Linked DNA regions of Homo sapiens: region 1 is linked to region 2. A link means that fine-mapping ties the variant in region 2 to the expression of a gene that starts in the linked region. Tissue or cell type: whole blood. Region 2 holds a variant in brackets; the other region holds the start of a gene. All regions are shown on one strand. Distances are between the middles of the regions.

Region 1 (5,000 bases), 56 kb after region 2:
CAGAGGTTAAAAAAAATAACAGTTGCTCACTGTCTTAAAATTAGAGCCTTGAAAAGCAAATACTATTAGCACAATTCCTCTCTCTGAAGGATTTTTAACATGTTCCAATTTATAAAATAACTTCTAGGATAGAAGGTAGTCAAAAAACAATCTAACTCAAGAAAGAAAAAGAAGTTATGCTGCACAGACCAACAATGTCCAAGCTCAGAAGAAAACAGACACAACCAAGGTTTTATGAGCCTAAAAGATGTTCATTTATGAAACACTAAGAACCAACTACTATAGCTCCATGTTCTGTTTGTTGCTTCGGCACCCTAACCCAACATTGAGTCTTCTAGCAACACATTCAAAATTTAAAAACTTCTTCCAGCCCAAGTTTCAATCCAGTTTAAGTTACAGGATGGCCTTCAATTTCCCTAAAAGGGAGGAAGATCAACTGCAAAATAATACAAAGTCGGACTCCAACTCACAGAGGTTAGTTGAAACTCATTTTTCCTATCACTGATCTATTACTTTTATTAAGTTTGATCAATCTGAACAGTCACTTGGCTATTAGGAAGTCATCTGAATAACTGAAAAACGGGTGGGGTTTTTTTGTTTTTGTTTTTTAATAGAGACGAGGTCTGGCTATGTAGCCCAGCTGGTCTGGAACTCCTGGGCTCAAGCCATCCTCCCACTTTGGCCTCCCAAAGTGCTGGGATTGCAGGAGTGAGCCACCACGCCCAGCCTGAGAAACTGTTCTACTGTCAAATTTCATGTCAACTTGAAAAAACTAGATTCCTGATGACTTACATCATCTCATAATCAATGCTCAACGTAGATCACACTTACAACTCAGTGTACATTAAGAACGAGGTGTTTACCAGGCTCACAGTCAGTTAACATGTTGATGCTATTCATTAACATAATTCCTTAAGTTCAGCTGCATCAGGTTACAAAGGTACCTTCAATTAAGGACTGTCAAGGCAGAGTCTGCAGCCTTGAAAGAGACCTTAATTAGTTTTGAGCTAAACATTACAGCAGGATAAATACAACTGTTCTTTATAGTTTAACTGCAGAGGTACTAGGGCTAGAGCTGGCTGTGGTCTAGTGATTCTCTCTAATTCATTACTCCATAATGCCTGGCTCTTCAGGCAGTTTTCCTTTACCCAAACGCTGGAAGCTCGGGAGGCGGTTGGCGGGGAGGGGGCGGGGGGGTGACATGCAGAAGTCCCTTATGTACTTCCTGAACAAAAATCCCACTTAAAAAGACCTGCAATCTGTAGCAAACTCCTAAACTGCTCCCCAGATAAAATAAAATCCAGATGCACCTGAGTTACCAGGCGCTGCACCTAAATTTTGCCAAAATGCCTTTTCTATAGAACATACTTGACACGCAGAAACGAGTGTTAATTATCTTTCAAATGACAAAATAAAAACCATCTTTTCGATTTCTTTGAATGCCCAGAAATAAACAACTTGTTTATTTTTCACTTAAGAACAAAGTTTAATTTTAAAACTACTGTCAATAAAGAGCCGAGCCAATTATCTAACTCAACACTCATTCATTGTCTCCATCTGTACAGGATCCACATGACTTTTAGGCCAGTCTTCTTACTACTACATTTCATCTAAATAGAAGCAGTGGTACTCCCTTCCTGCCAGCCCCCAGTTACTTAGCGAAAAGGAGAGTGGAACGTGTTGCACAGAAATCACACGCAAACATCCTACCTGACCGTGACACTGGGGCGAAAAAGCACAGATGCTACATTTTCATGCTAACTGTATGGGTCCACTCTCTCCTGATTCCAGTACAGTCAACCTGACACTCCTCAAGTTTCATATTCTCGCCCAAAAGGAGGCTGTCACCCTACGCCCTTGACAAGAAGTCTCGGGCAAAAAGTTCCCTTATTGCGACGGTTCCAGAACTCGCTTGCTTAGGAGACGGCCAAGGAAGCAGGGAGTTGGGAGCGCATGCGACCCCATGTGACTCGGGTCACCCAGCCAGGGTAGCGAGGTTCGGCCCACATCGCCCGAGCAGGGGATGGGGGTGAAGCGGCTAGGGCTGCTATTGGTGTTCCTGCCTCATCCGCAGCGGGGAGGACAGGAGAGGTCTGCCCACACCCCGAGGCAGCACCCAGCTCGCCCCACTTCCCTCTCGCAGGGGGAGAGACCAGGACGCGGTGGGGGGTGGGGGAATGGCCGTGACGCCCACCGGGGAGACAAGCGGGAGAGCAGGGCGACCCCGAGCATCCTCTCGCCCTGGGGCGCGAGGGCACCCCGGGCGGGCAGGGCCAGTTGCCGGGGCGCGCCCCCTTCCCGCCAGCCCGCCCGCCGGGCCCGTTCCTTCGCCAGCGACACAGCGGACCAGGGCGGTGCCCCGCCCCGCACCCGCCGCCGCCCCAGCCCCCCTGCCCTTAACCCCCGGCCCCCATTCCCGGCCCGGCACCTTTGATCACGTTGCTGTAGATGGTGGGGCGGAACTCCTCGCGCGCGCGCTGGTCGAAGTCCTGCCCGTGGATGATCCGCATCTGCTTCAGGAAGGTGGACTTGCCGCTCTCGCCCGCGCCCAGCAGCAGGATCTTCACCAGCCGCTTCACATAGGTCTTTTCCCGAGACAGGCATTTGTCGATCTCCTTGGACTTGCGTTGCTGCTCGGCCTCGCCACTCGTCAGCAGGCAGCCGGGGAAGCACACGGACAGCACGGACCGCGACGGCAGGAAGTCCGCCATCTTGCCGCCGCCGCCGCCGCCTCGGCGGGCCCCTCCGGCTCCCTCCACCTCCTCCTCCGGCGGCGGGCGGCTCCGGCACCGAGGCTCGAGGGCGGGGAGCGCGGCGGCGGCCCGAGCGCGCCCAGGGAGGGAGGGAACCAGCGAACTGACTCGCAGGGCGGGCCGGGCAGGGCGGGCCAGGACAGCGGGGGAGGGAGGGAGGGAAGGAGGGCGGGCCCGGCCCCGGAGGGGCGGTGGCCCCGGAGCGTGCGCGCTCCCGCTGCCTCCCGGAGGCGCGCTCGCACGCCGCGGCCGCTTCTCCGCCTCCCGCCCTGGGCGGCGAGTCACGAGCTCGATGTGTCGCTCGGGTGCCCGCGCCCGCAGCCGCGGCCGGGCGCGCGGGGAGGGCTGAGGAACCGCGGTCACGTGGGCCAGGCTGGGGAGCCCGACTTTCTGTTTCCCTTTCATGGCCTGAGCCCACTTGTGGGCAGAAGGGCTCCTTCCCCAAGGCCGGGAGGCCGGAGACCAGGTCCCGGACGCGGTTCTTTGGGCTCCCACTTAGCCTCCCTTTCTCCCGCGTTGCGCGCCCGCTGCCCGCTGTCACCGCCCACCCGACCCATTTCGAGGCCACGGACTCGAAAGTTATTCGAACAGAACAGCCGGCGTGAGCCTGGCAGGCCTTTGGTGCATTTTCTTTATTTCATTTTATTTTTTCTCTTTTGAGACGGAGTCTCACCCTGTCGCCCAGGCTGGAGTGCATTGGCTCGATCTCGACTCACTGCAACCTCCGCCTCCCAGGTTCAAGCCATCCTTCCGCCTCAGCCTCCCGAGTAGCTGGGAGTACAGGCGTGTGCCATCATACCCGGCTAAATTTTTTGTATTTATTTTTAGATACAGGGGCTCCCCCCTATGTTGCCCAGGCTGGTCTCGAACTCCTGAGCTCAAGCGATCCTCTAGCCTCGGCCTCCCACAGTGCGGGGATTCCAGACAGAGCCACCAGGCCCAGGCCTGGTGTGTTTTCTTAAAGTGACTCCCTTGACCTTCTAGTCTCCGAATCCCAGAACGGTAACCAGACGTCGTCCACCCCCACTTCCAGCTCTTTCTGGCATTTTCAGACCCCTACCAGGGCTCTCTGTGAGGGGAAAGAACTGGAGTTGATGTTCACTTGAGACGTGCTACCAGGGGCATTTAATGGCTCACTCGTGCATTCCACCTGGGCTGTGATGTGACTTCAGGGACGCTTGGCCGCGCCGGAATTAGCGAGTGGCAGCAGGAGGGTGAGGTCATGGTGAAAATCCCCTACACCGGACACTGTGATGTAGGCTCTTCCCAACAAGGAAGCAGATACACAAACACAACGAGGAATGGGAGCACGCAAATTTTAGCTTTCCTGCCAGATTACAGAGGATATGACCCGTCCAGGGACTTTTTTTCTGTCCTAACAGCAGATTCAGGCCAGGACACCTGAAAGGAGGCCAGGAGACAAGCCACAAGTGACAGCTGTGGGTTGGCAGAGAAACTGCTTAACCGGGACCCCCGAGAGCCGACCTCTTCATTCTTAGTATTTAGTTTCAAGTGGAAAAAGCCACTTTGGTCTGTCCCTGTTTTGGGCAATGCAACGTAGCTTTGGGCTCCTGTGGCTCAGAAACTTCGTATGTATAAGGGAGCGGAGGTAAGAGGTCAGCATTCCAAGAAACTCCCGAACAGGTTTAAATTTTAAAATCGGTACTAATCAGTTACTCCCTGGGGTTGGGTTAATGACCGAGAAGCCTCGACTCAGTAGATTGGCTGCAGTAAACAATGCCTGTAGTAGGATTATCTCCTGTGGCTCTGGCAAGCCCAGAGGGTGGACAACCTACAATATACAAGTAGAGTAGGCTCACCTCCAATATCTGTGGATTGATAAGAGTCAGAATCACTGAGCAGTGCTGTCAGGCAAAATATATGGTAAAAGCCTGCCCTGGATGGAGAATTTTTCCATCATCTCATCTAGTGTTTGGGAGGCCCTGTTCTCTAACCATGCAAGGACTCGCCTCTCCCAGGATTGGGGCATAGAACCTGTCCCCGAGCACTGTTTCTGCATTGACCCCAGGTGCTAATCTGAACTCCAACAAAGAGGAGAGAAACTTGTAAGTTAGGTAGTTAACATCTTTTTTCAGAAGTGTGTGTAATATAATGGAAAACCAAGAATGCCTAGGAGGCAGGAAGGTATTCCTGCCCAGCCAGTTCATGTCGTGACATGCAGAGCAGCAGAGAAAGCTGTTTAAAGCCCTGCGTGTAAGCTTGCCTTGGAACAAACTTGGCTCACAT
Region 2 (5,260 bases):
TGAGGCAATCTGGGACCCCATTTTCTTTCTATTAATCTTGCCTGAATTTACGTGTTGAAAAATGAACGTTAAGGCCGGGCACAGTGGCTCATGCTGTAATCCCAGCACTTTGGGAGGCCAAGGTGGGCGGATCACTTGAGGCCAGGAGTTCAAGACCTGCCTGGCCAGCATGGCGAAATTTCATCTCTCCTAAAAAAATACAAAAATGAGCTGGGCATGGTGGCGGGCACCTGTAATCCCAGCTACTCGGGAGGCTGAAGCTTGGACCTGGGAGGCGGAGGTTGCAGTGAGCCAAGATCACACCACTGCACTCCAGACTGGGCAACAGAGTGAGACTCTGTCCCCCCACCCCAAAAAAAGAGAAAAGTAAAGAATGTTAAAACACTCACCACTGAGGGATGTTTACTATATGCCTGAACACAATGCTAACTTTAAAAAACAGCTATTGCTCTTTGGCTCGAGTCACAGACGGAAGAAGAAAAAAAATTAAAATACACGGCTATTGTGTGTTTTCCTATAGTAAAAATAGAGGAGAGCTGAATTCTGTTGGGCATGGAGTTAATAATAATTTACACCTGTGATGCTCAGCCAACCACACAGTTGGGGTGCTTGTGAATTTTACTTACAGATCCTATTAATATAAGGCTGAACTTCTCCATTTCCACCCTCCCACTTCAACCACCATCAACACGACTCCTCTCTCAGGGGACTTTTAGCTCCACTATCACTGCAGGGTGGCAAAGGTGATGCTACAGCCCAACAATTTCACACATTTGTTTCCAGTTTATTTTATTTTATTATTTTTTTTTGAGACAGAGTGTCTCCCTTCACCCAGGCTGGAGTGCAGTGGCTCCATCCTGGCTCACTGCAACCTCCGCCTCCCGAGTTCAAGCGATTCTCCTGCCTCAGCCTCCTGAGTAGCCGGGATTACAGGTGCAAACCAGCATGCCCGGCTAATTTTTGTATTTTTTTTTTTTTTTAGTAGAAACGGGGTTTCACCATATTAGCCAAGCTGGTCTTGAACTCCCAACTTCAGTTGATCCACCCGCCTCGGCCTCCCAAAGTGTCATGTGTGAGTCACCATGCCCAGCCTGGTTTCCAGTTTCTTTGGGGGAAAATTGCCAAGGCAAAACCCAAATGAAACGAAGAGGATGATAGAGAAAGAGGAAAGAAGGAAGGCAAAGCAAAGGGAGTGAAGAAGTAGATAAAAATAAAAATAGCTGCCCCTCAGCCTGGGCAACATAGGAAGACCCCCACTCTAAGAAAATTTTAAAAAATTAACCAGATGTTGTCACAAGCACCTGTAGTCCTAACTCCTCGGGAGGCTGAGACTGGAAGATTATTTGAGCCCAGGAGGCTGCAGTGAGCTATGACTGCACCAGTGTACACCAGCCTGGGCAACAGAGTGAGACCCTGTCTCTAGGAAAAAGAAAAAACAGCTACCCCCAATTCCTATCCCATGCCTGGCACTGCAGCACTTTCTGCATTTGATGTTAAACTGAACCTGCCGCATAGGTGTTATAGGTAAGGCAAGCGACACGCAGAGGGGCTGGCATTTGCCTAAGGCCACACAGCTCAGGAAACACAGAAGCCTGGATTTGAATCCAAGTCCATCTTATGTTAAAGCCCATGTTCTTGCTTACTGATCACAGAAGCACCCTACTCTCATTCCTTAAAGAATCTTACAAAACGAAAGAAAAAAGCAGCACAGCAATTCTCTAGAAAATCCATTAGCGGGCACGGTGGCTCATGCCTGTAATCCCAGCACTTCGGGTGGCTGAGGCTGGTGGATCACCTGAGGTCAGGAGTTCGAGACCAGCCTGGCCAACATGGCAAAACCCCATCTCTACTAAAAATAGAGAAATTACCAGCCTGGCCAACACGGCAAAACCCCGTCTCTACTAAAAATAGAGGAATTACCAGCCTGGCCAACATGGTCCAGTCTGGCCAACATAATGAAACTTCATCTCTACTAAAAATACAAAAATTAGCTGGGCGTGGTGGCACACGCCTGTAATCCCAGCTACTCAGGAGGCCAAGGCAGGAGAACCGCTTGAACCCGGGAGGCGGAAGCTGCAGTGAGCTGAGATTGCGCCACTGCACTCCAGCCTGGGTGACAGAGCGAGACTCCATCTCAAAACAAACAAAAATTTAGCTGGGCATGGTGGTGGGCACCTGTAATCCCAGCTACTTGGGAGGCCAAGGCAGGAGAATCACTTGAACCCGAGAGGCAGAGGTTGCAGTGAGCTGAGATCATGCCACTGCACTGCAGCCTGGGCAACAAGAGTGAAACTCCA[T/C]CTCAAAAAAAAGAAAAAAAGAAAAGAAAATCCATTAGTTAGAGTTGAAAGCTTGAGTGAGAAAATGTAGTGAGTTATGTCTTATGCTGGAATAGCAGTTTGGATCTCTTGTATTGTTGAGCAAAAAGGCCATTAAAGAAATGGAGCACAGTAAGGCTGGCAAGAAAGCGCTGCCCCGCAGGGCTTCATTATAATGAGGCCACGAGGGGCTTCTGGCTGAGATGAAAGATCTTGATGTCATGGATCCAGCATAACTCAGTCCTTCTTGCCTTCTGGTGTGGACCCTACTCAAGCCCAGGCTTTGAAACTGATTATGTTTACAACATTTCCCCAATGAGGGTATGATCTCTTTATTCTTTCTGACTTTTTATGATGAGAAGTTTCAAACATACACAAAATTTGAAAGAAGAGAATCAGGAACACCTAAGAACAGAATAATGGACAATTAATATCTTACCACTTGCTTTATTTCTCTGTCTCTGTCTCTCTCTCTTCCTCGATTTCCTCCTTGGCTTCCTTGATACCCCTCCCTCCGAGAGCACACGCCTTTCTGATGCTCCTACTTGGACAGTTCTCTGTCCTCCTCTTGAAGCCAAGGTTTCCTGCTAGCCCACTTCTCTCCTGACTCTAGGCAGTCAGTCCCCTAGGACAGGGGTCCCCAACCTCTGGGCCACAGACCAGTATTGGTCCATGGTTTGTTAGGAACTGGGCCACACAAGCAGGAGGTGAGCAGTGGGTGAATGAGGGAAGCTTCCTCTGAATTTACAGGCGCTCCCCATTGCTCGCATTACCGTGAGCTCCGCCTCCTGTCAGATCAGCGGTGGCATTAGATTTTCATAGGAGCGCAAACCCTATTGTGAACTGTGCATTTGAGGAATCGAGATTGAGCACTCCATATTAGAATCTAATGCTCGATGATCCGTCACTGTCTCCCATCAACCCCAGATGGGACTATCTAGTTGCAGGAAAACAAACTCACTGCTCCCACTGATTCTACATTATGGTGAGTTGTATAATTATTTCATTATATATTACAGTGCAATAATAATAGAAATAAAGTGCACAATAAATGTAACATGCTTTAATCATCCCAAACCCACTATCCCCACTTGGTCCGTGGAAAAATTGTCTTCCACAAAACCGGTCCCTGGTGCCAAAAAGGTTGGGGACCACTGCCCTAGAACCATCTCCCTACAACCCACAGCTTCAGCCACTGTGCTTGTAGCTTACATTCTGCACTTTTATCAATCAGACCTCTCCACTGAGCTTGAGACCTGTAGATCCAGCTGCAGTTAGATGCCCCAAAGGGACCTCAGACTCAGCATGTCCCTCAGAGCCTACCTGGCCCACCCAAGTCTGTTTCTTCCCCCAGACGTCCTATTTCAGGAATGGCTCCATCCAGTTGCTCCACCAGAAACCTGGGCAGCCTGCTGGGTTTCACCCTCTTCCCTCCACCTGCTGCTTCCAAGTGCTCTGTCCAGTTTTCTGCCTGAAGTATCCTTTTCATTCACCTCCTTCCAATTCCATTGCTAATGTATAAGCTCAGGTATCTTGCTTTTCCTGTACCTCAGCAGCCCTCACTTCAGTTCTTGCCTCCGGCCAGTTGTCACCCTCACTGGGATTACTGTAATACCGCTGAGGTCATGTCGTTCTGCCTCTTGTTTTTCTTTTTCTTTTTCTTTTTTTTTTTGAGATGGAGTCTTACTCTGTCACCTAGTCTGGAGTGTCGTGGTGCGAACTCAGCTCATTGCAACCACCTCCCAGGTTCAAACGATTCTCCTGCCTCAGCCTCCTTAGTAGCTGGGATTACAGGAGTGTGCCATGCCCGGCTAATTTTTTTTTTTTTTTTTGACAGAGTCTTGCTCTGATGCCCAGGCTGGAGTGCAGTGGCGTGATTTCAGCTCACTGCAACCTCCGCCTCTCAGGTTCAAGTGATTCTCTCACCCCAGCCTCCCAAGTAGCTGGGATTACAGGCATGCGCCACCATGCCTGGCTAATTTTTGTATTTTTAGTAGAGATGGGGTTTCACTGTGTTGGCCAGGCTGGTCTTGAACTCCTGACCTCAAGTGATCTGCCTGCCTTGGCCTCCCAAAGTGCTGGGATGACAGACGTGAGCCATTGCACTCGGCCCCATTCCACTTCTTATAATGCTTACTGGTTTTTCATGCCCATGGGATAAAAGCCAACGGTGTTGATCTGGCACGTGAGGACCTCCATGACATGTTCACTGCTCATTTACTCAGCTTTACCTCTTGCTACTCATCCACCACCTTTCTATCTTCCAACTGGTTAGGGTTCTTGCTGCTACCCAACTTGTAAGCCCCACACACCTCAGTGCCTTCGCACATGCGGTACCCTCTGTCTAGGACTCCCTTCCATACCTGTGTCTGACTCATCTTTTATCATAGTCTTTCATATTTTTGTTCCCCTTACTAAACAGTGAACTTTTGGGGGTGGGGATCAGGGAACTGTTTCTCCTCCTTACCCTCATCACCTTACAGAAGGCTATCAGTGAAAGGTGCTCGATCAAAGCTAGATAATGAAAGAACTCCCGGCTTTCTTACTGACACAATGTTCCACCATCTGGCATGCAGCCTTTCCTGCGTGTTAGGTCTAGGTAAATTTAAGACATCTTTAAAGCCCCAGCCCAAACACCTTCTCTTCCACAAAAGTATCCCTGCCAGGCTGGGCAACACAGTGAGACCCTGACTCTACAAAAAAAAAATAATAATAATAATTGGGCACAGTGGCACGCACCTGTGGTCCTAGCTACTTGGGAGGCTGAGGCAGGAACATCACTTGAGCCCAGGAGGTCAAGACTGCAGCGAATTGTGATCCTGCTTCTGCAATCCACCCTGGGTGACAGAGCGAGACTGTGCCTCAAAAAAAAAGAAGAAAAAAAAAAAAAGGCTGGGCACAGTGGCTCATGCTTGTAATCCTAACACTTTGTGGGGCTGAGGTGG

The links. PIP is the estimated chance that this variant, and not a neighbour inherited with it, causes the effect.
Region 1: GNA13 starts here. The variant in region 2 is fine-mapped to the expression of GNA13 in whole blood (INTERVAL, PIP above 0.99).

The regions. Positions count from the first base shown.
Region 1 is chr17:65,053,883-65,058,882 of GRCh38, forward strand. It overlaps GNA13 (G protein subunit alpha 13), which reads right to left and starts at 2,858. Exons shown (of 4, transcript NM_006572.6): 1 at 2,429-2,858. The coding sequence starts at 2,711. RefSeq lists silencers at 2,096-2,355, 2,636-3,145.
Region 2 is chr17:64,997,954-65,003,213 of GRCh38, forward strand. It overlaps LOC124904044 (a long non-coding RNA gene), which reads right to left and starts at 96. Exons shown (of 2, transcript XR_007065877.1): 1 at 1-96. The variant T/C (reference allele first, on the strand shown) is at 2,298.